Linked DNA regions of Homo sapiens: all the other regions are linked to region 1. The links come from fine-mapping of genetic effects on gene expression. A gene starts in region 1. Each other region holds a variant in brackets. All regions are shown on one strand. Distances are from middle to middle.

Region 1 (4,094 bases):
GCTGCTGCCAGACGCCCCCCAATAGGTTTCCCAAGCCGAGCTCCTTTGCAAGCCTATTTTGGGGGCAAGCAGCCAACCCGGCGTCCCCCAAATCTCAAGCTAGCACCCCCACACATCCCCCGTCTCCTACAGCGTGTCTCCTGCGGTGTTTACATAACTGTGTGTCCTCTAGCGTGTAAACAAAAGGCACAGCCCAAGCGGAGAGGCGCCCCTGAAGCAGCACCGTGGCCCCAACGCTGTGCCCGCCCGGGCCTGGGGCTCCGCAGGTGGGGGCTGAGCTCTCGGCGTCCTCCGCCACTTGTTGCTCCCGGGTCCTGCAGCTCTGGAGCTGCAAGGAGGGGCTTTGCAGGCTCAGAGCCCTGCTGCATCCCCTCCTGCATCGCCGCTCGCACCCCGCGGCCCCGTGCCACTCGGTCCCGGCGCCCGCCTGGAGCCTGCAGCAGGGGCCAGAGGACGCCGCGCGGCTGCCAAGCGCGGCGAGGTGGCGGGAAGGGAGGCTGGGTGCAGCACAGCCGGCCTCTCCGCTGAGGAAGAGCTCCGGCTCCCTTTTGTTAGCAAAAGCAAACACTGCCCTCTTCTTTCCCGACCGCGCCAACGCGCCCGGCACACGGGCAGCCACACATCGGGCTCCAGCCGAGTGCTCGGTGTCTTCAGGGAAGGCACCGGGCGTGCAGAGCCGCCCCTGGGCAAATTCCCAAGACTGCTCTTCACGCAGGGAGCGCGCGGAGGCCCGCAGGGTGCCCGCCTGGCCGCAGAGGCCGCGACGCCCCCTCCGCCACCCTCGGGCCGCCGAAAGAACGGGCAGCCGGGAAATCCCGTGTCCCCACTCGTGGCAGAGGACGCTGTGGGGCGGGCGGGCTGCGGGCTCCCGGCGCCTTCCCGCAGAGGCGGCGACAGCGGCCGCCCCCCCCGCGGGGCCGGGCCGGGGAACTTTCCCCGCCTGGAGCCGGGCCAAAAAGACCCGCAGCAGAGCCGAGGGGGCGGAGGGCTGCGAACGGCCGGAGGGAAACACGAGAGGCGTGCAGTTTGGGGACAGGGGAGAAAGGCAGAGCGCGTTGGGGGAAGGGGCAGGGGAGATCAGACAAGTCTGGGGATGTCCTGGGGACCGGGGAGAAATCACGCCGCGGGCGGCTGGGAGTCAGCCACCAGGAGGCTTCGGGGATGGAGAACTGGGGGGGCCCTCTGGAGAGGTGGGGGCGAATGGACAGCCCTGGGAGGTGGGAGGACCTGCAAGTTACGGGGAGAACGGCGAGTTTAGAAGGGTCCGGAAGGGTTGAGGTTGTCTTTGAACCATCCCCTTCCCCCATGCTTTACAGCCCCCGGGCCCCCCATTCTCACTCCACTCTGCACCCCGCGCCAAGCCGGGGAGAGAAGGTGTGGGTGCAGCCATCCCTGGGGACTCTCATTCACACTTAGCCGGGCAGGGGAGAAGGGGCTCACAGATGCCCTCAGCCCCTTCCCTCTCAGCCCTGAGTTTCCTCTCCACACTCCCTCCGCTTCGGATGTAGGAAGTGGGGGGAGGTTGTCATGGAAACGTTTCCCCCCTCTGTGGCCAAGGCTACTGGGGTGCCTTCGGAGATTTAGGGGCCAACCGGTCGGTGCCCACACCTACCTGTGGGGATCAGTGCCGCGGCGGAGAAGAGCAACAGCAGAAGCCGGAGCCGGAGCCCGGGAGGCGCCGCCGCCGCCGCTGCCGCCGCACACTGGGATCCGCTCGGCAGCACTACACTCGCCATGTCGGGCACCTGCCTCAGACTGGCGGCGTTGGCTGCCTCCGGAGCCCGAGCGGACAGCTAATGAGATGCTAATGACATGCGCTGGAGGCGGAGTCCGGGCAGACCAATCACAGCGCCGCGAGCCCAACCCGGCTCTCGGAGGGCCTCGCTCCCTCCCCCACCCCGCCCCCTGGCGCTGGCGTTCGGCGGCGCGCCCGCGCCACCTAGGGGCGGGGCCAAGGGGAGGGGCGTATGCAAATATGTTTATGTTAAAATTCGGGTTTTGCTTTCCCCGGATCAAGGAAAAAGTGTTCTCCCGGGCGCCTGGCGTGCAAGGACTCGGGCTCCAGGGGGCGGGTCTAGCTTCTTGTACACCTTTATTAGGAATGTTTATAGCAATCGCTGTATCAGACCGACGACTGGAGAATCTCCCTTAAGAGGGTCCTCTGTCCCGCACACCGAGTGCATCTGGCCTAGCGAACCAGACGTTGCAAATTTCCGTCACTCACCTTGCACCGAAGGAATAGATCTTTGGGAACGGGGGCTGTGCGGGAGTGGAGAGTAAGAAGGCAGGTCCCCGGATTGACAAAACAATCTGGGAGAAGTGCATGCGTGCTTTGCACGTCCGGCGGAGCGGGAGAGCCCGCTCAACAGCCTAGCGGTAGACTCGGGGATAGTTGGAGAAGGCAGCCGTAGAGTCGGGTTCTGAGATTTTCCAGTCGGTCTTTTTGCGGCAGAATCTCGGGAAAGGTAGATCGAGGAGGGTATGCTCAGGCTCCTCCGCTTGTCGAGGGTCTCCTCCCTGGTTTTAATATATAGGTGTGTGTTGAATATATGTGTGAAATATTTGTAATATTAGATATTTAAGATTACACAACAACGGAAAAAATTAGTCAAGGCTTCAGGTGAAGAGCGGGGGTGGTGGGAGTTGGGGAGAGGGAGTGTGGTGAAGGCAGGGTCTGCCGTGTTCCTCCTTCGGGGCTCAAACCCTCTCACTCCTCCTCTGCGCCCCCAGCCCTTCCTAAGGAAGCTGGGGACCAACAGGTGCTCCGAGCTTCCCCTGTCTCTGGGAGAGCCTCTCCTGCTAAAGCGACTTGCATCTCCGGACTCACTCTCCCTCCCCGAAATTCTCTTTGCTTTCTTTTCAGCCAGGCAGCCGGCTCTCTTGTTTGTCTGCTTTTTAATTACTTATTTTCTTCCCCTCTAGAAGATCGTGTGCGCTCTGACCCTCTGTTGCTCAAGCATCAAATTGAAGGACGAGCCATATTAAGTGTAAAGGTTTATAATAATTTAAGTATTCATAGAATGCAGAACAATAAGATGTAGGAAATACAATTTGCATAATAAATATCAATATCACAACAGCTAAAACAAACCATGACAAATTATCTGTGGCTAAATGACCAAGAGATTACTGAATGTAAATTGCTAAGTCTGAGCTATAGTCTAGAAGAGCTGCGCCAAATGACTTCCCCAGCCTTCTGTCCTCATCTTGCTATAAAATAAATAAATAATACATATCAAAAAGGAAGTCATGATCTGCCAACCCACCAAATGAGTTACACTTAAAAACAGCCTCCTATTATCCATTATGCATAAACTAATTTCGAGACTGCCCGGTCTTCACAGCCCTGGATATTCTGCTCTGTAATTACAGGCCCCGATGCATGAACTGCAGGCAGTCCTTCAGAAGTGGGGAAAGCTCCAACAGGAGAACAGCACTACAGGAGACAGGAAACCATTGCCACGTGGGTGCCAGGATAATGCCCAGTCTGCAAAGTCCTACCCGTTCTTACTACCTCTGGCAGTGAGGTACCTGGGTCGGACCAAATAGAGAGCAAAGTTCCACCAAAATTGGAATAAAAAAGTTAAGGCCAGCCGGGCACGCTGACTGATGCCTGTAATCCCAGCACTTTGGGAGGTTGAGGCAGATGGATCACCTGAGGTCAGGAGTTCGAGATCAACCTGGCCAACACGGCGAAACTCCGTCTCTAATAAAAATACAAAAATTAGCCAGGCGTGATGACACACACCTGTAATCCCAGCTACTCAGGAGGCTCAGGCAGGAGGATCACTTGAACCCAGGAGGCGGAGGTTGCAGTGAGCTGAGATCGCATCATTGCACTCCAGCCTGGGCGACAAGAGTGAAACTCCGTCTCAAAAAAAAAAAAGTAAGGCCATATGTATGCTGAAAGTGATATGTAAACTATAAAGGCAGGTCCTATATGGCAAGAATCCTGACACAGAGCCTGGCACATAGTAACATTATTATCTGCCGTTACTATTATTACTACTCTTGCATTCACTGAATTCTTAAGTATTCTACATGCAAAATCTCATTTAATACTTGAAACAATCCCCAAGGTACATACTATTATC
Region 2 (4,000 bases), 320 kb before region 1:
CTCCTCAGCCAAAAGTGTTGCCAACTGCAGATGCTACAACCCCCATTGTCTTGAAAGTCATTTCAACAAGGCAGAACTCGGTCAAGGGATTTTTTTTTTTTTCCTTTTTAGAGACGACAAAGCTCGTTGAAGGGGAGCATTCCCCGTGGGGTGCTGCTGGACACGGGGTGTCTGCTGGAGGAGAGCGCTTGACACACTGGAGATGTTCAGTCCAACTGCACAGATGCAAAATTGCTCATGGGGGACAAAAGTAACAGAAAAGCCAGCAAGTTGTGTTTTCCTTAGGGAGCTGTCAAAATAGGGAATCTTGGGGGAATGAGAATTAACTCATCTCCAATGGCCATGAGCTTCAGACCTATTAAAATTTATGTGTCTTTCGATGAACTCTGTATGTTTTAAAATTGGGGGAGGAAAACAAGTGAGACTAGACATTGAGGACAGGGGAAAGTTAGGCACAAGAGGCAAGAGGTGAAGAGAGGTTCCAGGAAGACTGAGAACAGAGAGAAGCTTCGAGAAGCTGTCCAGGACAGTTCTAACCCATCTAGGGGAAGACACTATCTTGTCCACTCTTAATAAAAGACCGCCTCCTCTCCATGCCTAGACACAGGAATATTCTGGAAGCCTGAGGGGGGAGGGGGGAGGGGAGAGACAGAGAGAGGCTCTGTGACAAAGAAAAACAAAAACCTCCCTCAAACAAAAAGATCTCACGAGGTATATGTATCTGTGAGATTAATTTCTTGAGCCGAAACTCCTTACTTGACCTTTGCCCTCCATGAACTTTGAGCTAAATATGCTCAGTGTTGCTATTTTTCCCTGCACTTTGCCCAAATTAAACTAGAACCTTAGATGTTCTAGTTATCTTCCCCACCCTCAAGGACATACATATTTTACAGATACTTATTTATAAGGGTAATCTCTCCAGCTATCTTCTGATACCCACTTTGATCAGAAAGTTTACTACCACCAGTTAATCACCAAGACATTTCTCCTGCCTTCAATTACTGCAGATGGACACAGAAGGTAACTGATGTTTAATTTACAGGGAACACTGCCGGTTACGAGCGCCTCACCGCCTCTTCCCACCCCCACTCCCACCTCCTGGGTTTACGTGGGAGGTGTTAATAGAGTTGTGCCTGTTCACTGAGTGCCTCTGTCTTGGCCTTCCCTATGAAAAGCAGAGCTGTTTCTGGAGTCATCTCAGTCCGTTCTTTTATTTCCACGTGTGGGGAGGGTGGGGGAGTGTTTATAATGCCATGGATTGGCTCAAGGCAGCAGGGCCGGGGTGAGCTGCCTGCACCTGCGGGCTGTGCCTCACTCATGACATGAAGCAGCCGTGCAAGATGCTGCCCAGGGGGGAACTGGGCTACTGGAGTCGCACGAAAACCAGAAATGGAAGGAAATACCGAGCACTAAGAGAAGCATGGCTGCGACAAAGTCTGTCAGCTGCTTGACCTTTCCTTCCATTCCCAAGGCAAGGACTCTAACCAATTCCATGAGAAATGACTTCTAAGTGGGAAAGCTATGGGTTTCCCCATGAGCCACAGATCCTGGTCCTGCAGGGTGCAGACCCCTTCTTCAGGTCCCATGAAGTGCTGGCTTTCCTGGGGACATTCTCTTCAGATTCCCGGCTCATTTTCTGAATCGGGCAGGCAACGAAACCAGAGGCAGATTCTACAGCTGCCCCTAGCTTGTCAATTGAAAAATAAATGTGGGAGTGGAAAGCACTTTTAAACATGCCTGATGCTCAGGCAT[A/G]TGGACATCACTTCGGTTTAGAAAGCCATGTTTTCTTGTTCCCTAAGAGGCTACAAGTGTTCCTCTTACTAGTAACAAGTGTAAGAGTGTTTCTTTTCTGGGACTAAGCCCTGCCCCATCATCCTGAAAAGTAAAGCCATGTTTTTGCTTGGTGAATGGTTCCAGCATAAAGGTTATTCCAGCCTCAGTGAACCAAGCATGATTGCATAACACAGTTCAACTGGAGTTAAGAATCTCATCCAAATTATTTCACATGTGACCTCAGGTGAATTAGGCCTAGTCCTTGAATGATTCTGACTTGCAGATGAACCCTGTAAAGGTTATTGTGTATCGCTGTGTCACCCTTCACTCCTCCTCAGAGGTAGAAAGCTTGGTGTCCTTTTGGCAAAAAGACTGACCTTGGACTCTGTAGTCGAGGGCTTCAGGGCGGGCAGGCAGCAGTTGCAGGGAGGTGTTCCTGACAGCTCACAGTTGTGGTACAACCCTCCCTGCCTGTCGTGTCCCATCCCGCAGCCACTTCCATGGCTCTAAGTGTGACAGATAAATCATGAGGTGTTTAGTATTCGTGAGTTAGCTTTTCTTTTGGCAAAAAGCTGAAACAACTTGGCTCCAGGTGAGAGTTTACCAGCTGCTTGCAGAATGTTAAGTTGGCCACTACTGCTTGGGTCACAGCTTCAACAACCCTGGGCTCGCTTTAGCATCTTAGAAATTGCGGGACAGAGAAATCTCAAAGAAACTCCCAAGAGTGATGCCCCAAACTGCTCAGATTTCTTTACCTTGGGCCAGTTGACCTGGCCCGATCCATTCCTCATGGGCAATAAGAAGGGGAAGTTCTAAAGGCAGTAGTTCCCCAGGGCGTGACAAGAAAGGTGACTGCTAGTGGAACTTCAGTCTCCTTTCCCCTCCTTCTAGGAGACTTTTCTTTCTCTACTTGTTTTCATTCCTCAAACTCCTTGCCAGAGTCGTCTTAAACGCAGCACTCTGGCAGCCATGCTGCCTGTATTAAACAGGGCTCTGCAAGAGATCCTGGTTTCTATGGCTACTTTACCACCTGGCATGAGATGTGTAGCATAAACCGCCATGCAAATGCCATAATCATGGATCTGTGATAAGCCTAGAAGGCTCTGCTGCCAAAGTGGGGATCCATGGATAACTGGAGAGTGGCTAGTACATCCTAGACAAGCTCCTGGCAAATAGGGACTTTGGCAGAAGGACTCACTGAGCAGAACCTTCACTGCAACTGCTGCCTGCCCACCCTGAAGCCCTCGGCTACACAGAGTCCAAGGTCAGTCTTTTTGCCAAAAGGACACCAAGATTTCTACCTCTGAGAAGGAGTGAAGGGTGACACAATGATACACAATAAAGTATGCAGCATGAGGCATGACAGCCACATTGCACTGGGTCACCCTCACATCTCAAACATCCCTGGCTCAGGCTGTAAGGCACATTTAGCAACATGGCGCTTAAACGCACACTTTAACTCTTTTCATAGGTCATAAACTACCTCAGCTCTCATTTTTACGTTTAAGCCATGGGGAGGTTCTAACGGTATTAGTCTTCCTACTTCTGTTTAGGGACAGTTCAGATGCTCAGCGTTCTGTGCTTCCCCCATCCGTGGATGACTGGAGGAAAAGAATTGTTGCGGACTTTTTTGCAACAGTTCTGTCACGTGGCTCAGTTTTAGTTCCTTTCCTGGGTGGAGATCTTGCTGGACAAGTCAGTTTAATTACAAACTCTCAGAATCGGTGTTTGTAATGGAAATGCTGCCTCCAGCTTCCTAGGGTTGTAGGGATTAGTCTATTTCAGAGAAAGCTTAGTGACTATGATGTCATTTGTTACTTCTTGCTAGGAAGAAAGAAAAAGCCTGGTAGTGGATTTCCCAAATCTGAAGCAAAACCATAATCTGACCTAAAAAAAAAATGACACTTAAGAAAACCTGGCACCATCTGAAAAATGTAGCTACCCATTCTCATCATCTATTGTAGCTCCCGTCCATGGCAACAAAAATAAGTGTGCATTTTAAAAAGCACAACTTTATTACTGAAGGGGAACAAACTGAATGGCATGCGCTGACAAAATGCCACATTATTTGCTAATCCTAATATGTTATTCTTCTTTAAGATTTGCTTTTCTCAGCACCAATTCAATTATAGATGCTACAAATCCTTCTGACATTTAATTCCCTCTTGTCAGAGAGTAGTAAATGTATACAGTACATGCACAGCTTTCCCATTAAGATGTTAATATA
Region 3 (4,000 bases), 300 kb before region 1:
GATTAGCTTTAGTCTGGAGTGAAGGATTAAGAGCTGTGAACTGAAGCGACTCTGCTGAGTTGCTGAGATTGATTGTGAGGGGGAGGAGTTCAGCGAGTGCTAAGAAAGGTCTTAAAAAAAAAAAGCATAAGCTAGTGAGAAGGCCAGCCGCAAATGAAAAGTGTTGTTCCATATAAAAGAGAAATGTGGTTGTTTATATACCACGTGAATAAGGTCTCGACTGCCTTAAAATGTAAACCTGGATAGCTACCTAACTGGCACCTTCTAGAATGAGTGGTAATAAATGCTGGCTCATACCTGGGCAAGTTCTGCGAAGATAAAATAGACTGGTGATATATTTTCTTAAAGGGTTAATATATGTAGGGCAATGGAGAATTACGCAGTATATTTTACACTAGTATCTAAAGGGCACTTCACAAGAGTACGAGTCTAATTTGGCTTACGAACTGGGTAGCAGGCAAGAAATGTGAAAAGGTAAAAACCTAGTTCTTAGTATGAAAAGCTGATAGCACAGTTACTCTGGAAATCAGAGTTAGGAAGAAGCATCTTTGATATGCTGGTGAATAGTATAGAAAATGGAAAGAATCAATTCACTAGGTCAACAAACTGAGTTTACTTAAGTTTACAGAAGGAAGTAACAAAGAGCCAAAACAGAAACACACACAGACAAGAATCTAGGAAGCAGCCTGGTTGGAGCTGAGTTTAGAGTGAGACATGAAAACCAACTGATGGATTTTCAGAAGATTTTAAATTAAGTGCTGGCACTGATGGTTTTGTAACCAATGTTGAGAAGCACTGGCTTCCTTAAGGGTTCTTTTTTCCACTGTAATGGGTAGAAAAGTGAAGAAAACTGAGATTAGACAATCTGTTGTATATTCTATCAACTGATGAGGCCTCCTCTTTCTTTGAACACTCTGAATTTTCATCATCTCTATCTTACTGACTCCCATGAAAATTGGAAATGTCTCTAGCATGTCAATGAAAAGGACAGCAATGATATCTAGGGTGTTAAAAGGAGCTGACCATGAAGGGTGGGGAGTCAAATACTCAGTGTTCATAAAGAAGTCCAGAGACAGGGGTGGGTACCAGGGCACACGGTTCAGATACCTTGCAGTCTCACCAGCTAACAAAATGCAGCGGAAAAGTTACTCTTTCAAGAGATATTTTTTTCTCACAGAATAATTACTTTCACATGTTTTTGTGTTAAGTCCCTGTAAACACAGGTTGGGAAGGCCTTATCTAGGGAAATCCTTCATGTCAAGTGGACATAGTGTGGCCAGAAGCTTTCCTACTTAGGTAGGCAGAAGAAACCCCATGGCTCCCAGACAAGCCACATCAAGCAGTATGAGAGAGCCACTGGATGCCAGGAAGGGCTGGATGGCATGCCACCTCCCTCAGTGACAGAAACAAGAGACAGTAAAACTCATGCTGAATAAGAGTTTCAGACAGTCCAAAAAGATAAAGCCGCAGAGTTAGAACCACAGTGGCTGCCTCTTCCACTCTTCCAATATGTGACCGAGGGCAGGGAGGGGCACATGAGTGCTCAGCATGGAAAAGACAGTGACTCCCTCTGATCTCTTGTGACTACCTAGGCAACACAAACAGGTAGTATCACTTGTCAGCGGGTACTCTCTGGAGCAGGAAGGATGACTATGCATTTAGTAGCATGGCCCAAATAGGCACATTGAAGTTAGGTGTGTATATTTTCCCTTACATGGACTGAGATGAAACTAAGACAGAGACAAGATTGAAAGCCACAGTACTTACCATTTCATCAAACATGTCTAAGCAGAAGCTATAGGCGTGTTCTCTAGTAGCCAGCTGCCATTTTCCCTAGCATTTTGCTTT[C/G]AATAGTGATGCTTAAAAAAGAATTCTTTTATGCATAAGCTGCAAAATATCTGACGTACTGTTAAATGCTGGGATGTTTCTGAGGTCCTTAAGATTCAACTTAAGAACATAGTATCTAATGTCGTTGGAGTTCCAAAATAAAGGAACGATTAAATTCCAAGGATTTAAAGGGAACTTTTCGGCTTCTTTTTATACATACCAGAAAGACAATATACATTCAGGACATTTTCAATGGTAATGAAGATACCATACCTGTGATGATGGTAAGGATGGTGGTGGTGGTGGTGGTGGTGGTGGTGGTGGTTGTTGTGGGAGGAGGGATAGTTGTGGGGGGATCTGGATAGAAAAAAAAAGGAAAATCAAACCCACAATGCTGAACACAACAATGACCAGTAATGACAAAACAAAGGCATGAGGACATTGAGATGTTTGTTTGATGGCTTCCCCCTTTAAAACCAAAAGTTCTTTCCCTGCAAGATTTATGTCTTGTAATTATATCCCAAAGCCTTAGTTGGAAGAGCTGAGAAAAGAAGAAAAGAGAATTTTCATTAATGAAGTGAATTAGGGATGAGGAGATGTGAAGAGAGGGGAGGAAAAATCAAAACATACGACACCCCTCTTCCCTACCAGATTTCAAAGGTGAGGTTAAATCAACTCAGTACCAAGAGGGTACAATGGTTGTCATTTCGTTTCAGCTTTTACAGATGGCAGGAAGGAGGAGGAGGAGGTGGTGCTGCTCTATTAGGGGGCTCATATCAGCCAAGGATGAGCGTGCCCCTGCACACTTGCTCTCTGTGACTGTTAACTTCATTATTCTCCATCAATACAACCCAGCAGGAAGTAAAACTACTTCTCTACTCATAATAAATACAAAGAAGAGAGAATGTCACCACTAAATATCAAGTTCCAGGCATGTGAGATTTTACTGAGATTTTATTCTTTAAAAGTCAATAAATTTTACAACTTATAAATATTAATAAGTTGCCTTTGCTCATATTAAAAGCTTGACCTAAGTAGACTACAGTGATAAAACTGAAAGAACGTTTTCCATCTTGTAAACAAGAGAACTAAATATAAATGAGACTCGACCTTCAAAGCCAGGAACCTGATAGGGAACCCTCTGTCAGATATTTGATATACTGTATATTCTTCTATCATCTCAAAAATTATTTGGAGACAAGGGAGGGGCAAATATGAAAGAGAAAAAAAAATTCTAAGCCCAAATGATCAAACTGAATGTGTTAAATTGTCAGCAAGACTTTGAACTAAGCAATCATTCTGCTATAATAGAGCATAAGACGATTTGAAAGCTTTTGATTTTAAATTTTATCTAAAGCATGTCAACTTTTTCTCCCTGACACATCTGGTGTCCTTTTATCTTCAAGTGAGCTCTCAGATTGTCTAATTAATACATCAAAACTTTAATTATATACTGCACCTTTATTGGGTTTGGTGCAACTTCCCAAAAGTTTATAGAAATATTATTTTGGTGCTTGGTTGCAAAGTCTACTTAAAATGATATCTACCATCGATCAACAATCTGAGCTTTTAATTTTCCTCACAAATTGCTTCTCTCACACAAACACACTTGGATGAAATTAACAGAGAAGAATCAACTGTTCTGTTCAATGGGAGGCTCCGTTCCTTTAAGATGGGGATACAAGCAGTTTACACTTTCATTTAAAGCAGCCTCACGTGAGTCCAAAAAAGGATGTCGTTTAAAAAAAATCTCATTCTCCTCCAAGAGGTAAAAATGGTTAAGTTAGTGATTTTAAACTACCTTTTTAAAAGAAAGGCAGAATGAGAAATACGGTGATTCAGGCCATGTGTTCAGTCTTGCTCCTTCACACTTTTTATGGAGGCCACAGGTAGGGAAGCATTTTGTGACCTGGAAACTCATTTGGATGCACCTACACACCTGCTGCAGGTGTCAGCATAGATATAAATGAACCAAGTGCACTGACCCCTGAGCCCAGCACTAAAGACGTCCCGCTCCCTCCACTACACAACTAAACTATATCCAGAGAGGTGCCTGCTGCCCAGCACAGGGTCAGTTAATGTGATTTTTCTGTTTTGCTTCAATTACTATATCTACTACTGAAAAGGAACATTTGTTCCTGGGAGATTTCCCCTGATATACTATAATCCTATT
Region 4 (4,094 bases), 730 kb after region 1:
ATTAGACCTCTTTTACTAAAAGAAGCGTGTAAAATAACCTCAGTTTCATTAGCAACTCAAAATATACTACTCGGTGTGCTACATATGTTTAAGTGAAATGTGGAGGGTCAATTTGCTATGTAAATTTCCACAAATTTGGCTAAACTAAAACGATTAACCTAATGTGTATGCAAATTAACTTAATTGATAACGACTTTTCTCCAGGAGCTTTAAAAGAGGGGGAAATATATTCCAATTCTAACAATCCTCCAAAGTGTTCCATCACCCAATAACAAAATGATATCTTGACAAATTAAAGAGAATATAATGAAATCAGATTAATTAATGCCAAGACCAATTAGCATATGCAAAGAAACAAATCTCACTAATAGACAAATCCAGCAATTTGAATGAGATTTTTGAAAGCTTTTCCTATTTGTCAATTTGTGTGTGTGTGTGTGTGTGTGTGTGTGTGTGTGTGTGTGTGTGCGCGAGCGCGTAATTCCATCTTTGAAATGTTGTTCCCTTTTGTTTAGGATCTAGAATGTCAGACCTGGAAGGGTCCCTATAGTCTGAAACCCCCTACTTCAACTGATTAAGAAACTGAGCCTCAAAAAAAGGTGAATTTATCTGGCAAGGTGCCACTGACACCCTGGCAGCACAGCCCTTTCGTAGCACCCTGCCTGCCAGCAACACCCACTGATGCCTGGAGGCGGGGAAAGCATTCTTGAAGGCCCTTTCAGCTCTGGGACTACCTGATCCTATAGTCTACATTGGAATGTTTACCATATTAGAATGCCGTCTACATTAGAATATACCTATATATTTAAGAATTGAAGGGATTTTCATCTTGAGTCTCTTTTCCTTGACTCGGGCCACATTTTTCACACCAAAAGCAATCAGCAAAGCAAGCGGCAGAGCCTCAGCTCCCGAGGAGAGTCGTTTTCCCAACCCTGCTCCACATTGGACTCCCCTTGAGCTCCTATGCAGTTAGCGGTGAATTCTCCAGGCTAATCACTGGGCTGTGAGAGTTTCAGCCCACCTGTGCTCACCCCCTCCACCCTCAGCTAAGGACTCTGGGCTAACAGGCAGAGCTCTGACTTGGGTTTTTATTTTTATTTATTTTTTCTTGTTATTCCAGATGGTTGCTGAGAGACTGAAGTCTCGGTTGCTTCCAGTGGGACCCTCAGACAATGGCAACTGGAAGGAGAGGCAACCCTGGATGGCACTTGGGCAGCAGAGAGCAGTCAGACCCCAGCGATGGCAGCAGAGGCAATAGGAACAACACAAACAGAGCCCACTGGACTCATTCCATGGACTCTGGCCTGGGGGTTGCCTCTTTTAGGCCTTTAGGTGCAGCTCTTGCCTGGATCTAAACAGGACTATAGTATGGAAAGCTGGAAGAATAAGAGCAGGAGAAACAGACTCTGCTTGGGGAGTCAGGAGACAGACCTCCAGGCCACTGACCTTGGCCAAGCCATTTCTCCTCTCTGGCTCTTAGTTTTCTCATCTGTAAAACCACGAAATGAGGATATAAGCTAATAATCCTTTCTGGCTCCGTCTCTTAAGTCTCAGCCTTCTGGGTATAGTTTTAGCCTCTAGAATAGCATCGACCCCATGGAGTTGAAAGGGTTAATGAATAAATACATGTGAAGTGCTTAGAATGGTACGTGCCACTTAGTAAGTGGTCAATAAATATTAGCCCATAGTTTTTATCCTG[T/C]CAGGCGGTCCTTCACCCCCTCTTAAACACTTCAGTGGTATAGAAGGCGACAACAATGGTATGTGGATAAATGTTTACCAACCGGTCGAGTGAGGGTGGGTCTCTGCTTTGCAGTGTTTGCCGATTACCATGGTGTAAATAATCCCACTATGGCTTGTTTGAAACTGCCAACATGAAGTAAAACAGCTCATGAAATTCCTGAAAATGTAACAACTGGTTTTTGAAAACCAGGGCTAGCCAGCTCCAGAGTGCCACTGACATGCAACACCCTTCCATTCTCCATTCTCATTCTATTTAAACAAATGTCTCACTGTTGCACCTCTTGCATATAGAGAGAGACTAGATGCTAATTAAATATAAAGTACTTGTGACTATCCTCCCACATAACACTCTTTTGGGACACCACAAATTTCTTCCCCATCTACCCACTCCCACCTCCTTCCCCCAGCCCTTCAAGCAGAACAGTCTGTGTATACTTTGGAAACATAAACTCACATTATCATTAATCTAAGCCAAGCATCATTGAGAAAGTAAATCTGCTGCAAAGGAACATTTATTCATGTTTAAATTTTGATGATGTGTATATTAATCACTGATGGGCATTACCCCCTTCATGTACCCTTTAGCGTGCCAACTTGTCCTCATTCTCTCTGTCCTCTGCTTTGACCCCAGCCTCCATTCTGATGGCCATGGCCTATCTTGGGATTGCTTTACCTACATCCTGAACTTGACATTCCTCCTGCTCTCAGAAAGTTGGTTATTTACCGACTGAAAATGGAGAGTGAAAAGAAGAAAAATAAAACACCTTTCCCAGTGGAGCCCATAAAAGGCTCATGAAGTCATAAAGACAATTACTGGCAGGCCTATATGGAATACCCTCCGTGAGTCATCTGTCTTCTGCTGGCAATAAAGGCACATAGCAAATTAACCATGAGGGAGGCCCGCTCACTTACCCTGTAATTAGACGGAGCTGCAAGATGCTTCCTTTCAAACTTCACGTGGGAGGATCTGTTTTGGCTCCAGGAGGACCTGCCTGCTAGCCCAGCCAGGCCTGGGCTCTTCCTTTGGCTACTGCCCCTACAGCGCTGAGCCTGGAGCTATGAGACAGTGACAAGGCAGCAGCAGCAACACAGTCCCGCCCCTCAAGGCCCATGCGGTCTGTTTAGAGAGGTAGGCAGTGCATAAAGAAGCAGAGGTGATCATAAGGTTCTCAGACTAGCAGAGAGGCCTTTCTTTCCCACTTCATCTTTCACCACTTGCTGTCATGCACTCTGTGCTCTAGCCACATTGAACAGGCTCTTTCTCAAGTTCCTCATCTGCCTTCTGGCCTCCATACCTTTGCACATGCTGTTCCCTCTGCCTGGAATGTTCCTATCCCTACAAGATCTTGACTTGCAGAGACATAGTGCAAATTACATTTGCACTAAGCAATGTAAATAAAATGACACCTTCCTGACAAGTCTCTAAGAAGATTAACTAGCTTCCCTCTCCCTGCAAAACTTTGTGCAAAATTTCTACTTAGCACTTATCACATTGATTCTAAACACTTGTCTCACAATCTTTTTCCTCTGGATTTCGACTTTGAGGCAGGGCAAAGATTAACTCATCATGGAATTCCATTCCCCATCCCACCTCCATGTCTAGCGTCTAGCTCTGTGTACTTATAAAGTAAGTTCTCAATAAATATGAGTTGGAGGAATAAAATACAAAGAAATAGAATCTAAATCTAGTATAATCTGGATCTGCGATGAATTCAGAAGGAGTAAGGGCTGGATGTAGCTCCTTAACCAAGTCTCAGTCCCAGGGAAGGTAATGGAATTCCAGGACTGATCCCCCTGCATTTGGCAGGGGCAGTTCCCATCCCTTCCCCAGAGGAGATGAGAAGGGGTCAGGGTGACAAAGCCCGGTGTGTCAGAACATCGCTTGAGAGGTTTAGCTCCTGGAGAGCAGTTAGGCATGTAAATTAGCACCGGCCCACAGGCCCTATGCTGAAAATAAATCTGCTGGAACCAAGATCAATCAATGGTTAAAAATAAAAGTTGAGGCAGTGCTAATTCTGTGTTTTCCTGAGCCCAGTGCGTAGGCAGCCAGAAACTTCTTTCCCAGGACACTGTTGAGTGAGCAAAGGGCAAGAGATCATGGGAAAAATTAGACAGCTTACAAGTCTATGCCTGGGATCTGAATCAGTGGCCCCTTTGGGGCAGGGAGGAGTGGATAGAAGAGCTGCATCAGATGCAAGATGCCAGATGAGGATTTTCACGCTGGGGAAAATCATCCTTTTGAAATTCCTGTTACCAAAGCCTGTCCCAAGCTTCCTACAGGACGAGGGAGGAAATCAGAGCAGGGCCTTTCAGTTATGCAATACATATTTATTGATTTATTTATTTAGAGACAG
Region 5 (4,094 bases), 150 kb after region 1:
TTTAGGTTTAAGGTCATAATAGTGGTTCCTACATCACAGGGTTGCCATGAGGAGTTAACGAATATTACAAGTATAACTGTTCGTCATTTCCTTCTCTGCGCTCAGGGGAGATGCTATCTGAATGATCCCTGCCCCTTTTTTCTATCCTGATCACCAAGTCCCTAGCACCTTGCTCTGTAAAGTTTTGACCAGCTTGGTACAGGTACCAGTTCCTAGAAAATGCTGCCGCTAAGATCTAGACATGCCCTGCTCCAAATAGTTTTCCTGGCTAGGTCTGATGGCTCACACCTGTAATCTTAGCACTTTGGGAGGCCAAGGCAGGAGGATCGCTTGGGGCCAGGAGTTTGAGACCAGCCTGGGCAATATAGCCAGACCATGTCTCTACAAAAACATGAAAAAAAAAAAAAAAAGCCAGGTATGGTGGTACAAGCCTGTAATCCCAGCTACTTGGGAGGCTAGGATGAGAGGCTCTCTTGAGTCCAGGAGTTCAAGGATGCAGCGAACTATGATTGCGCCACTGTACTCCAGCCTGGGTAACAGAGTGAGACTCCCTCCCCACCATCAAAAAAAAAAAAAAAAAAAAGGTGTTTTTAGGTGTATAGTGCCGTAGCGTTAAGTACATTCATATTGTTGTGCAACCATCACCACCATCCGTTTCCAGAACTCTTCATCTTGCAAAACTAAAATTCTGTACCCATGAAATACCAACTCCCCATTATTCCCTTCCTCCAGCTCCTGGCAAATGCCATTCTACTTTCTATCTCTGAATTTGATTACTGTAGGTACCTCATATAAGTGGAATGTTTGTCTATCGGTGACTGGCTTATTTCTTTAGCACAAGTTCCTCCAGTTTCATCCATGTTGTAGCATGTGTCAGAATATCCTTCCTCTTTAAGGCTGAATAATATTACATTGTATGTTATTTACCACATTTTGCTTATCCAGGCATCTGTGGATGGAGACATAGGTAAAGTTTTAAGCTCCACGTTGGTGTAGCTTTCCTTTCCTTCCTTTCCACAGGTAATGTGGAATTGACTAACTGTTTATCCATTCACGTGTTGTTACATTCAGTGAGGGCTCATATAGCATCTCTAGTTTACCAAGCTCTGTGATAAGCTTTGTAGATGATGAGAGAAATAAAACAGTACTCCTGCTCTCAAAATGCTCTCAGACCTAGCGGGGAGCTAGTTCTTTAATTAGGGCTCAGTGAGGGCTGTGTAGAGGAGGGGTGGTGGATTTCTACGGCAGGGATGATGGGGGTGTGTACCAGGAAAGACTTCACAGGAGGTGACATTTGAGCTGTGTCCTGACAGATGAGTAGGTGTTTGCCAGGCCAAGAGGCCTGGGTAGGGCCTTCCATGTAGGGGAGCAGTCCAGGTGGGAGGGAGCAGTGTGGAAGGAGGGTGAGATAGCAGGGTCCCTGGACAGGCTGCAGGCAGTGCTAGTGACTGGGGCACAGTGGGGGACAAGGCACAGAGATACATGAGGCTCCTGGAGCAGGAGGGGGCCAGATTAGTGCAGGGTCCTGTTTACCACACAAGGAGCTGGATGCTATAAAGGAACCAGTGCTGGAGAAGCCTCATGGTGACGTTTCCAGGGAAAGACAATTGAAACCATGTAATATGGTTTGGCTGTGTCCCCACCCGAATCTCATCTCGAATTGCAATCCGAATTGTAACCTCCATGTGTTGGGGGAAGGAACTGGTGGGAGGTGATCGGATCACGGGGCAGTTTCCCCCATGCTGTTCTCGTGATAGTGAGTTTTCACGAGAGCTGATGGTTTCATAAGTGACAGTTTCCACACTCTCTCACCTCATGTAAGAGGTGCCTGCTTCCTCTTCCACCATGGTTATAAGTTTCCTGAGGTCTCCCCAGCCATGCGGAACTCTGAGTCAATTAAACCTCTTTTCCTTATAAATTACCCAGTCTTGGGCATTTCTTTATAGCACTGTGAAAATGGACTAATACACCATGCTAGGTGTTCTCCTGCATGGAAGGGCTAGTGATCCATAAATGGAGGATTAAGGAGAATTAACTGGGTCCCTTGCTTAGGCCTAAGTGAGACGATCTTAGAGGTGCCTGTTGTGTTACTGGGGGCTGGTGTTAGTGTCAGTGGTAAGGAAATGGATACCTAAGGAATACCGCCCAGCTGCACTCTCAAAAACTCACAAGCTCAAAAATGCCCATTCTGGACCAAAGTAGCTAACAGAGTCAGCTCCAGGTTTCAATTTTGGAGGAAACAGGAAATCCATTGAATTGGAAATATTGTCAGACTGAACAATTAGAGGCAAGCTGGGACTATCAGAAATTTACTGAAGAGAAGAGGGAAACTTGGAGTTGAGTCAGAATACCTGATTCAGATCCTGTTTCTCTTAGTCACCAGCTATGTGACATATGAAAAATTGCTTGACTT[C/G]TCTGAACCTGTTACCTCATCTGTAAAAGAGGGATGACAAGACCCACTTTACTTATTTTTCATTAGGAACTCAGGAATAATCCAAATAAATGAGATAGTGTGGGTGATTACAACTGTGAGGCATCGTTACTGCATCATTGCCCTGAGCCCCCTTGCCTGGCACAAATGAGGGTCTGCACTGGACATGAAAGGTGGGGTGGCTTGCAGAACATAGTCAGGGGAGCATGAAGGGAGGTGAAGGAGTCGAGCTAGGACTTCTGCAGCACAGATGTGGGTGAAAAATCCCCTATCCTTGGGTGTCGGTAGCAGAAATGTACTCAGAGGCTGCTCTGGGATGTGCTGGTAACAGGGCCTGGACTGAGACCCCGTGGTTGTGTCAGTGTCGACTTTAGGTGACTCTTCCCCCTTACCTGAGGATGCTGCTGCCTAGGATCTCTCTCTGTGGACAGACGTAGCTGAGGTCACTGAGAGTTAGTGCCATGCCAGCTGGTCCCAGGAACAGAGCACCAAATCCGAATTCAGGAAGGAAAGCCCAATTCCAAGTCCTGGCACTGTACCAGTTTCCTTACCTGTGACTCTGAAATTATACCTTCCTTATCTGGTGGGCATTACACGTGAAAGTGCTTTTTAAACTGTAAAGAGCTGAAGAAATGCCATTTCTTGTATTGCCCTTCCCCTATCAGGCAGCTAAAAGACGGTGCTGTCTTCACACACACACACATGGTAGCGGTTCTCACCAATTCTGGGTCTATGGGGCCCGCCCATCCACCCAGCCTCGGCCGCCCAGGACGCCTGTAAAAGCTAAGAATACATTATAAAACTGCTGTAAGGTTTTATGAGTCCTCTTTCCCAGTGACCGATCTTGGCGCTGTGAGTCATACCAGCATTCGTATATGGGACTTGGAGCGTGGGGCCGGGACTAGGAGAACAGCTGGGACAGGGAGAGGTAGCTTCAAGGGAGCCAGTGGAGTGGCAGGATTGTGTGGCCTCAAAAGGGTTCAGCTCGGGGTGACCTTGGCTGACTCTTCTGCCGCCTCGATTGGGCCATTTGGTTTGATCCCAGAGATGGGAAGGAAAAAGAAAGAGTGGGGAGCGGGGACAAGATGCAGTGGTACAGCACAGAAGTTTGGAGTCAAACAGGCCTCAGCATGGGTCTCACCTCCTCCACTTTCTAGCTGTGTGGCTAGGGCAGGCCATGCAGTGTCTTTAGTCTTAATTTTATCATCTGCAAAATGAGGCCAATAATAGTGTGTATGGTTGTTCATATGAAATAATGGATGTAAAGCGCTTAGCAAGGTGTCTGGAAGAAAGTGATCAATATTACATTAAAATATAATACTTATTTTTTTGATGGTTAATAATTTAAATTTCAAATATTATTTTTATGCAGTGATTAGTACTTTGTAGTGTCCAATAAATATTTTCTGAATAAATAAGTGAAAGGATGAATGAATGAACAAATGCACAAACTGAAAGAGCTGAAAAAGAGGAAAACAAAGGAAAGAAAAGAAAACCTTGCTTGAACATCACCTTCTCTACAAAACTCTCTCTGGCTTTTATTTTCATCACCCGCAAATTGAGAGTTAGAGATTAGTTTATCTTCAAGGTCTCTCCCAGCCCTCATATCTGAAGACTCTTGATTCACTACTTAATTCATGCCTTGACCGAATATTTATTGAGC
Region 6 (4,094 bases), 250 kb after region 1:
CTTCCCTGTATAAAAAATCTTATGTGGAACTCTTCATTATAAAACAGTGGAGTTGCTCTTGTTGAAAAATGCTGAGGGCCAAGGGCCAGGGTCTCTCCATGTGAGTCCCCTACTGTATCTGCCAGAGCACCTGAGGGTGTGTTTGTGCCTTAGGGTCTCAGCAGAGCCCATTGGAAATCACTGATTTAGCCTGCAAACCTTATTATCTGGATGAGGGAACTGCTGTCCTGAGAGGTGACATCACATGATAGATCCTGGACCCAGCATGTTTAATCTGGGGGCTCCTCCCAGCAGAGCATGGCACCCCTTGCTCTGACCATCATGCTTTTTGGCTTCCCTCACCTGACTCTGATTCCCACTGAGCTGTGTGGTGGCCACCACTGCCTCCTATTTGGATGCAGAAGGTCAGTTTCTCTGCAGACAGACCAGCCCTTTCAGGGCCACTCTCCCGTGCACTCGGGCCCTGTAGCACCTCCCACCTCATCCTTCCTAGGGACTGAAGCCCAAAGCCTCTTACAAAACTGTCTTCTGAGGGCCCCTTGGCTGTCCTGTTTGTAAAACCATTCACAGTCAGCCATGCCTTTCATTTCCTTAATCTTAAATTGCATCAAAAAGGGAGAGATTAGAGGTAAAACCTCAATAAAGGACTGAACAAAAGCCTGCCCCCACTTCGGATTCTCACACCTAGCTTTGCCTTTTTCCCCTCCCTCTTCTCTGACAGACTGAGTGTATGAACCTTTTTTTTTTTTTTTAACTTAGATTAAAACGCTATTTAGAAAAGGCCCGCAAGTTTGAAGTCACCTCTGGTTCATACATTAAACATCAAATGTACATTAACTGTGAATTATGGTCATGAAAAGTAAATCCTTTAATGCCGTTTTCTGTGTTCCACTGCTGAAGCTTAGCATTAATGGCCTCTTTGCAACTCTGTGAATAGATGGACTTCTTATTTTCTAGCTTTCACCACCACACAGGCTTCTCTCTGTGCACCTGTAAACACACAGCCATGGGAAAAAGATTGAAGGGAAGTTTAAGCTCAGAAGCAGATCCACCTGGGTGGCAGGGGCCATTTATCCCCAATGGGCAGGTGGCCACACCTAGTGTAGGACCACACTATTTGTTCTTTCATAGACCCGGCTAGGATCAGCTTAATCGTTTGCTACATTAAGTTCTGAGGAATTGCAGTTATATAGGTGTCTAACTGGTAACTAGATCAAGCTATTGATCAGCAACCCTGACAATGGAGAAACAGGTTTTCACATGAAGAGTTTCTCTAAAAGGCAGGTTCGGAAGCCAGCTCCTGGGAAATGGTAAAGAATGACCACCACTGGGTTGTGGCATGGAAGCCATGCTCTTGTGTTACTGAATGATCTGACTTCTTTCTGCTGTACCAGGATAAGAAGCAAAGAGAAAGAGTGATAGATATCCAAAATGTTTACTCTCATGAGAAGGACCTTTCTCCATTAAAACTGTGGGAGCTCTCCCACAGTGGAGTAAGATGCAAACTACCTGCAGAGGCTTTTGCTACAATCTGATCTAAAGCCCGGGAGGCCAGAAACATGCCGCAGTTGTGGACAAGCCTTAGCAGGTTTTGAGACAAAATGAGGAGAGTCAGAATGAATTACTTCTCCTCCAA[A/G]CTGGGTTAAGAGACAAGATTAGATAAAGTAGAGATAATGATAGAAAACGATTTAAAAAGGCATTGAATTGCCTTTCAGTGTTTATGAACCTTTAAAGCTTGCACTAAATTACACAAGTTATTTAAATACATTCTTTAATATTTATGCTTTGTTGTTTTAATAAAGACTTCTATTTTTAAATAAAAATGCATAATTAAGTGGAACAGAATATTTTCCTCTTTGACGTGCTTAATCATGCCTCTGGGAAGCTTAAGTTGTTCTGATTATAAAGTCCAGACACTACCATCTACTAAAGAGCAGCCTGCACTCAGTAGGTGCTTAATGAATATTTAATGATCAACTATTATGTGCCTGACCCTGTGTTAAGTTCTGGGACTACAATGGAGAGAGATGAAAAGGACATGGTCTCTGCACTAATGGAGCTTGTAATACAATGAGGGTGTCAGACATTCGTTCTACAAATGAGTGTAAGCTTCCAAAATGGATCAGTATTAGGAGAAATGGAAGCCCTGTCTGATGAGAGGGTATTACAAAGGAACTTAAACTGGTTGGAAAGAAGGAGAGATCGGGAAGGCTTTCCTGAGGATGTAAGGGTTGGGTGGGATCTGAGGGTTAAGTAGGGGATTGCTGGATAGAAAGAGAGAGGAAGAGTATCCCAGGTTGAGCAAATAGTAAGAGCAAAAGCCAGTGGGAGGAGGGAACATGGTGTATTTGGGGGTACCCAAAAGAAGGCAGGCAACTGGTTTGGCCAGCACAGGCTGTGCTGTGGACCAGGGGGGCACAGCTGGGCTGAGGAAGCAGAGTAGGAGCTGAAATCCAGCCCTGCTTTTCTTGCCAAGTGAGATCGCCCATGAGACACTGCATCAGCTTAGAGGAAAGGGCATCATTTTTCCAACTGGGCTGTCCAGAAGGGGCACCTTTATCTAATTCTCTGCAGAGTGACCCACGTGCTAACATGACCCTGGTGGCTGCAGTATATCAGGGGAGAGGGAGAGTGAGGCCAGGGAAGGCTGGAAAGGCATCCAGGGCCAAACACGCAGGACGGGGAGCCTGTGTTAAGGATATGAGCCTTTCTCCTGAGGACGAAGAGGAGCCAATGAAGGGTTTTAAGTGTGTATGTGTGTGATGAACAGATTTGCATTTTGAAAAGATCACTTGGGTTGCAGTGTGGAAAACTGATTAGAGGAGTATCAGAATGGAAGCGGGGTATGGTTTTGGGCAAAAGATCATGAGTATGATCTTGGACTACGGAGTTTGATGCATCTTGCAAGCATCCTAGTAGAAACGTCAAGTGGGCAGTGAACACAGACAAATTGGATGTATAGTACTTAGTTTCTTAGTTTTCAGTTGTCATACCCCCAGGTGTTGCCCCAGGGCATGCAGCAACTTAATCTGTGGGTCAATAGGGAAAGAGGAGGAAGCTAACTACAGGCAGGTCGGGTACTGGTGGTGTTCACCCTGGTGCTAACGCTGTTTCTCAAGTGATGGTGTCCGGTCCAAATCAGTGTCCCAGTGAACTCAGGAAAGCTGATAGATTCAGTTCGGTGAATGGATAACTCCAGCAAAGCTGATGGTTGCTATTAGGTTGGTGGTGACACATTGCTTCTCCTGGTGCAGGTAGTGGCAGAGCTTTAGACATTTCAGAGATGATTCTAGCCAGGGACCAGGGGTGGGTTGAACATTAAATATTCATCAAGATAAAGTTCTATTTATTTGGAAGAAAGACTGACATTGGACACATAAGCTGGAAAGTTCTAAAAGAGATAGATATGTAGATCAGGGCAACAGCGCTGGAAGAGAATTAGAGTGCAACTCTAGAACTAGACAGAAGGCAGCCATGGTCACTAGGAAGACAAGGTGAGCACTGGTGAGAAAGGTTAATCTCAGTGGGCCTCTAAAAGCTTCATGAGGCTTAGTCCTGGGCCCACTGTGTACCCAGCTTAAGGAAGCAAGGCCAATTTTAGACCTTCCACTGAAGATGGGGCTGGGCCCCAAATAAGTTACTAGGATTGGTCAAGACAGGAACAGGAACTGGGCAAATCTGAATCTGTAATTTGGTCTGCAGTACCTATAGGTGGGCAGGACTAGAGATGGCAGGGGTTCACAGCAATAAGATTAGCAACTTTTTGAACATAAACCTATAAATTGTAATAAGCAGTGTTTCGGCCGGGCGTGGTGACTCATGCCTGTAATCCCAGCTCTTTGAGAGGCTGAGGCAGGCAGATCACGAGGTCAAGAGATCAAGACCATCCTAGCCAACATGGTGAAACCCCATCTCTACTAAAAATACAAAAATTAGCTGGGTGTGGTGATGCACGCCTGTAGTCCCAGCTACTCGGGAGGCTGAGGCAGGAGAATCATTTGAACTAGGGAAGTGGAGTTTGCAGTGAGCCACAATTGCGCCACTGCACTCCAGCCTGGTGACAGAGTGAGACTCCATCTCAAAAAACAAACAAA
Region 7 (4,094 bases), 330 kb before region 1:
CTGCTACATGGTGGGACAGGGATCTGAATGCAGGCAGCCTCTCTCTAGTGTGTGCTTTTGATCCTTATTCTATCTCTCTGGGTCTTTTTATAGAGATGCAATGAATGAGTACTCCCTACTGCTCCTTGCCCTCTGGCAGAGGCTGGGAGAGGTCACTGAAGTATCGAGTCCTCTGCCCGGACTTTTCAGTACAGCCACAAGACCCATCCCACCCTGCACACGGAATTGCTTTCTTCTCCCCATACAAATCAGCAGGCTGGCTGGGCTTGTTGCCCTCTGTACTTTTGACTCACATTCCTTCTCCACGAAACCATCCTTTAAGATCCAGCTGGGGTCCCAGCTCTTTGTGAAGCTGTCTAGGGACTCACCAGCCTTCACTGATTACCCTTCTCCAGAAAATTCTCATAGCACTCTCTGGGCTTCTCTGTGTTCAGTGGGGCACCCATGGCTCAGGGTCACTTCAAGTTTTCAGGTGATGTAACTGATGCTCTACTTGGCCTCCAGAGACCGCCTTATACTTCTCTGCATCCCTCACCATGCTGGACATACAGCAGGTGCTCAATAACTGCATATCTGATTTTTTTTTTTTTTTTTTTTTTTTTTTTTTTTTAACAGAGACAGGTAAGAGACCAGGCCAGGATGGAAGTGGCTCAAGGGGAGATGCACAGCCTTCAGTCTTTCTGGAGCTTACCTTTGCTTTTCCTATGGAACTTTCCCCATGACGTGGCCAAGGGAGAAAAGGGGAACTCATCAACCACAGCTGAGGGGATGGTGGGAAAAGGGCACTTTGGGCCTGGCCAGACGTTATCTGCACATTTATAAGATCGGCCACCATGAAGTGTAGTCATTGCTCACTTCAGCCTGCAAGGCAAGGACGATGACAACAGAGCAAATCCTGCTGTCTACCCAGGCCTGGAAGTCTCAGCAACCTAAACAGCAAGTGAGAACAATCTTCTGCAGGCAGCCAAGCCAGTCCTCCACAGCTCACGTCTTCTTTTTATGAAAGGAGAGAGAACTTTCAAGGAAGAAGGCAGAATGAATTGTTAAGACACAAACTCCCAAAGTAAGAGACAGGTGGAGCAGCCAACACAGGGAAGTTGGTGAGGGTGGGGGGGCGGTGAGAGAGGGGATGAGTGCGGAAGACACATCTACGGGAGCGGCCTGTTCCGGCGGGCCCGCCACGACAGCTCGCACACCTGCACAAATCGCTGAGTCCACGTGGGAGCCCAGACTCAGCCACGGCACAGCACTTGGCTCACCTGTCCACTGAGAGTGGGGAAGAGAACAAGGACAGGAAGGATGAGCGGAGAAGGAGAGAGAGCGCGGCCCCCAGCAACCCAGCCGGCAGCATGTCCTAGCATCTACTGCCAGCGTTCCTGGCCCCGTACATGGTCCTAAGGAGGAAGCTGGGACCAGAGGCCCATCTCTTCTCTCACTCGGAGGCGTCCATAAGAAGTCCATAAAGAGATTAAAGGATCACTTTGTAACATTAATTTTTTTTTATTAAGAAGACAGATATTTTATAGTACTTCTTTTTTTTCTTTTTTTTTTTGTAAAAATGGTATACATGAACCAATACAAAATGCGAATGGGAACATATGGATATGGAGTTTCTTACACTGTAACATTGTCCATGTACACCTTAAAAACAGAACTGGCCTAAAGGGAAAAATAAGACGTCGGTGTGACTAAAGAACAAGCTTATTTGGCATCAATTATACATCCTTCATTATTTTATATTCCTTTAAAAAACACAAAAAACAAGTTTGTTCTTTCTTCACTCTAAAAAAAGTGATCAACCTGTACAAAGTAATACTCAACAATACATTTCAAACAGTGCACTGTATACTTAAGAAAAAATACATAAACCAATATACAACTAAAATCCATAATTTCCTGTTTTTGCTTTGTTTTATTATTATTTTTTCCAATGTGTGGGGCCTACACTTTGCAATCTACCTGAGACGGAAAACACCAATCG[C/A]AACACATGAACCTGAGACATGTCAACATTGTAAGCCATAAAGTTACATCAGGAACACTGCACTACTGTACACTTTTCAAAACAGAAAGATGGGAGGTCCCAAAAATGAGATGCCAATTCTGTGAGCAATGGTGTGATTTTTTTTTTTTGTTTTTGTTTTTGTTTTTCTTTTTTTCTAAAAAGAACAACTGAAAAAAAACCTTTCAACAACATGCTAAATGATTCTCACCCTTTGATATGATTATACTATGGTCGGAATGGGTGCTAAGGGCTCGGAATAGAGCTGCAGATTATAAAATTCATTGAAAAAGGGATGTTCATTGTGGCTTTTTGTCTTGGTTAAGTGCCTAGGGATAGGGGAGGGGTAAATAAAATGCTGCTCGATAATGGATTTTCTTTTACATACCAGTCCGTTCCCAAAAGGCCCCCATATTGCAATGGTTCTATCAAAGGTTAAAATAAAGACAAGAAAAATAAACATGTTTTCAAATAACAAAGAGTTGACACTTTTTCCCCCTTAAATAAATCAGCATAAGTTTTCCACATAATGTAACAATAGTAAAAATGCACCTTGCAAAATCCAAAATTACTCACTGAAAATGTAATAGAATATATATTTATATATATATATAGATCTATCTTTTTTGATGCCATCTTTCCATAGGGACTGTTAGCTGGAGTCTGGAGTCTTACCAAACATATGGTAAGAGTTTAGTTTCTGTCCTTCAGGACTACTTCTAGATTTCCTAGACGTTTCAGTGAAAATCCCCACACTTCTTTCTTTAAAACATGTAAATGGTAACGTGACTCCTCTACCTTTTCCCGAGGCTCCCCATCTAAGATATGTTCAAGGTCACTGATTTTAGTAGCTATGCACTATGGCTGCCATCATGCGAGGATCAGTAATTTTTGGCAGATGGTTCTTAAGGCTGAGGAAAGAGGCCAAGGCTAGTGTATGAAAGGTAAAAAGATAAAAACACTCACATTTGAGTTTTGATTAAGTAACTGAAAATCCGTACATGCTGTTTTTCCACCTCTGCTCTGACCTATCGAGAACTGAGAGCGACAGCAGACCAGTGTGAGAACAATACCAGCCCTTCTTTTGTACCTCCTGCCTTTGTCAAGCCAAATCTGAAGGAATGAAAGTTTCACACAGATTCGAGTTGGAAATCCCAGCATGACAAATATCTGTAATATACAGTACATGCAGGCCACATCCTACTGCCTTCCTAACTAAGCACAAAGGAAAAAAAAAAAAAAATCAACTCTGTCCCATTCAGTCATTCGCACAACAGACGAACTTGCTTTTTCCTACAAATTAGTGAGAAGTAAGGCCGATTGGGAAAGGTGGATGGAATCATTTGGAACAGAAACAACCAGAGCAGAACTGTATTTCCCCCCTCCCTACTTCCCCTCCTGTGGCAACTCAAAATTTGTCCACTTATATAAAAGGAACAGACCTCACCTGTCAGGTCTGTTTAGGGCATGGAAAAAGGAGGAGTCCTTTCTGCCCCAAACCTTTCTGGACAGCGTAGGGTATCTATACTGAGCCGTCTACAGATACAGAATTAAAGACAGTGAAATTCAATCTCATTGTGACACACCTCACTTGCAGATAACCCTGTACAGTAATGTAGTTCCACAGCAAACAGAACATTTTCTGAATCACAGTCTAATTTTCTAGTCTTCACTGCTCTAAGTATTTGAAACATGGGCAGCAGCAAAGAGTTTTCATTGTTTGTTCACCCAAATCTTTACGACAACAGAGAAGAATGCATTATGGATACACTAAATTCTGAACTATGAAATCTAAGCTGTGCTGGTTCTCCTTTTATGAAACTGAATTTGGAACAGAAAGCAGTTACCATAAAAATAAACAAAAGTAAAAAACTAGAACAGAAAAGGGAAGGAAAAGAGTCTAAGGAATCCCAGCAGGCAAATTCCAAAATGGGAGATTTTGGAAAAAATCCGAAATTGGGGTAGAGGGAGGAAATAAATGTGCACAAAGGGGGAAAAGAAAGGAACGCAACAAACAAACAAAAAACAAGGCACAGAATTTTCTGCAATCTACTGAAACTAAATCCAAGTATCCAAGTTTGACTTGGTAGGAAGA

Direction of the effects. Positions count from the first base shown, and alleles are read on the strand shown. Sizes are in standard deviations (SD) of each study's normalised expression. Not every link is listed here.
As copies of A replace G in region 2, the expression in thyroid of the gene that starts at base 1,757 in region 1 goes down (large effect, 0.92 SD a copy in GTEx).
For the expression in transverse colon of the gene that starts at base 1,757 in region 1, allele G in region 3 goes with a lower level than allele C (moderate effect, 0.51 SD a copy in CEDAR).
For the expression in unexposed skin of the gene that starts at base 1,757 in region 1, allele G in region 6 goes with a lower level than allele A (small effect, 0.27 SD a copy in GTEx).
In carriers of allele C in region 7, the expression in monocytes after LPS of the gene that starts at base 1,757 in region 1 tends to be higher than with A alone (moderate effect, 0.61 SD a copy in Fairfax 2014).

The links. PIP is the estimated chance that this variant, and not a neighbour inherited with it, causes the effect.
Region 2: its variant is fine-mapped to the expression of CADM1 in thyroid (GTEx, PIP above 0.99).
Region 3: its variant is fine-mapped to the expression of CADM1 in transverse colon (CEDAR, PIP 0.91).
Region 4: its variant is fine-mapped to the expression of CADM1 in lung (TOPMed, PIP 0.92).
Region 5: its variant is fine-mapped to the expression of CADM1 in nasal epithelium (TOPMed, PIP above 0.99). The same link has a PIP of 0.9 or more in esophagus mucosa.
Region 6: its variant is fine-mapped to the expression of CADM1 in unexposed skin (GTEx, PIP 0.98).
Region 7: its variant is fine-mapped to the expression of CADM1 in monocytes after LPS (Fairfax 2014, PIP 0.95).

What each region holds. Positions count from the first base shown.
Region 1 is chr11:115,502,659-115,506,752 of GRCh38, forward strand. It overlaps CADM1 (cell adhesion molecule 1), which reads right to left and starts at 1,757. Exons shown (of 12, transcript NM_001301043.2): 1 at 1,613-1,757. The coding sequence starts at 1,736. RefSeq lists a silencer at 1,783-1,942.
Region 2 is chr11:115,180,539-115,184,538 of GRCh38, forward strand. The region is part of intron 10 of CADM1 (cell adhesion molecule 1); the gene reads right to left. Among named protein-coding and RNA genes, the nearest start is that of CADM1-AS1, 210 kb to the right of the region's middle. The variant A/G (reference allele first, on the strand shown) is at 1,753.
Region 3 is chr11:115,207,474-115,211,473 of GRCh38, forward strand. CADM1 (cell adhesion molecule 1) reads right to left here. Exons shown (of 12, transcript NM_001301043.2): 8 at 2,101-2,184. Among named protein-coding and RNA genes, the nearest start is that of CADM1-AS1, 190 kb to the right of the region's middle. RefSeq lists an enhancer at 1,347-2,546. The variant C/G (reference allele first, on the strand shown) is at 1,849.
Region 4 is chr11:116,229,972-116,234,065 of GRCh38, forward strand. No RefSeq gene overlaps it. Among named protein-coding and RNA genes, the nearest start is that of LINC02151, 270 kb to the right of the region's middle. The variant T/C (reference allele first, on the strand shown) is at 1,700.
Region 5 is chr11:115,650,907-115,655,000 of GRCh38, forward strand. No RefSeq gene overlaps it. Among named protein-coding and RNA genes, the nearest start is that of LINC02698, 6.4 kb to the right of the region's middle. The variant C/G (reference allele first, on the strand shown) is at 2,414.
Region 6 is chr11:115,750,918-115,755,011 of GRCh38, forward strand. All of the region lies in intron 2 of LINC02698 (long intergenic non-protein coding RNA 2698), which reads left to right. Among named protein-coding and RNA genes, the nearest start is that of LINC00900, 7.2 kb to the right of the region's middle. The variant A/G (reference allele first, on the strand shown) is at 1,637.
Region 7 is chr11:115,172,149-115,176,242 of GRCh38, forward strand. It overlaps CADM1 (cell adhesion molecule 1), which reads right to left. Exons shown (of 12, transcript NM_001301043.2): 12 at 1-4,094. Among named protein-coding and RNA genes, the nearest start is that of CADM1-AS1, 220 kb to the right of the region's middle. The variant C/A (reference allele first, on the strand shown) is at 1,982.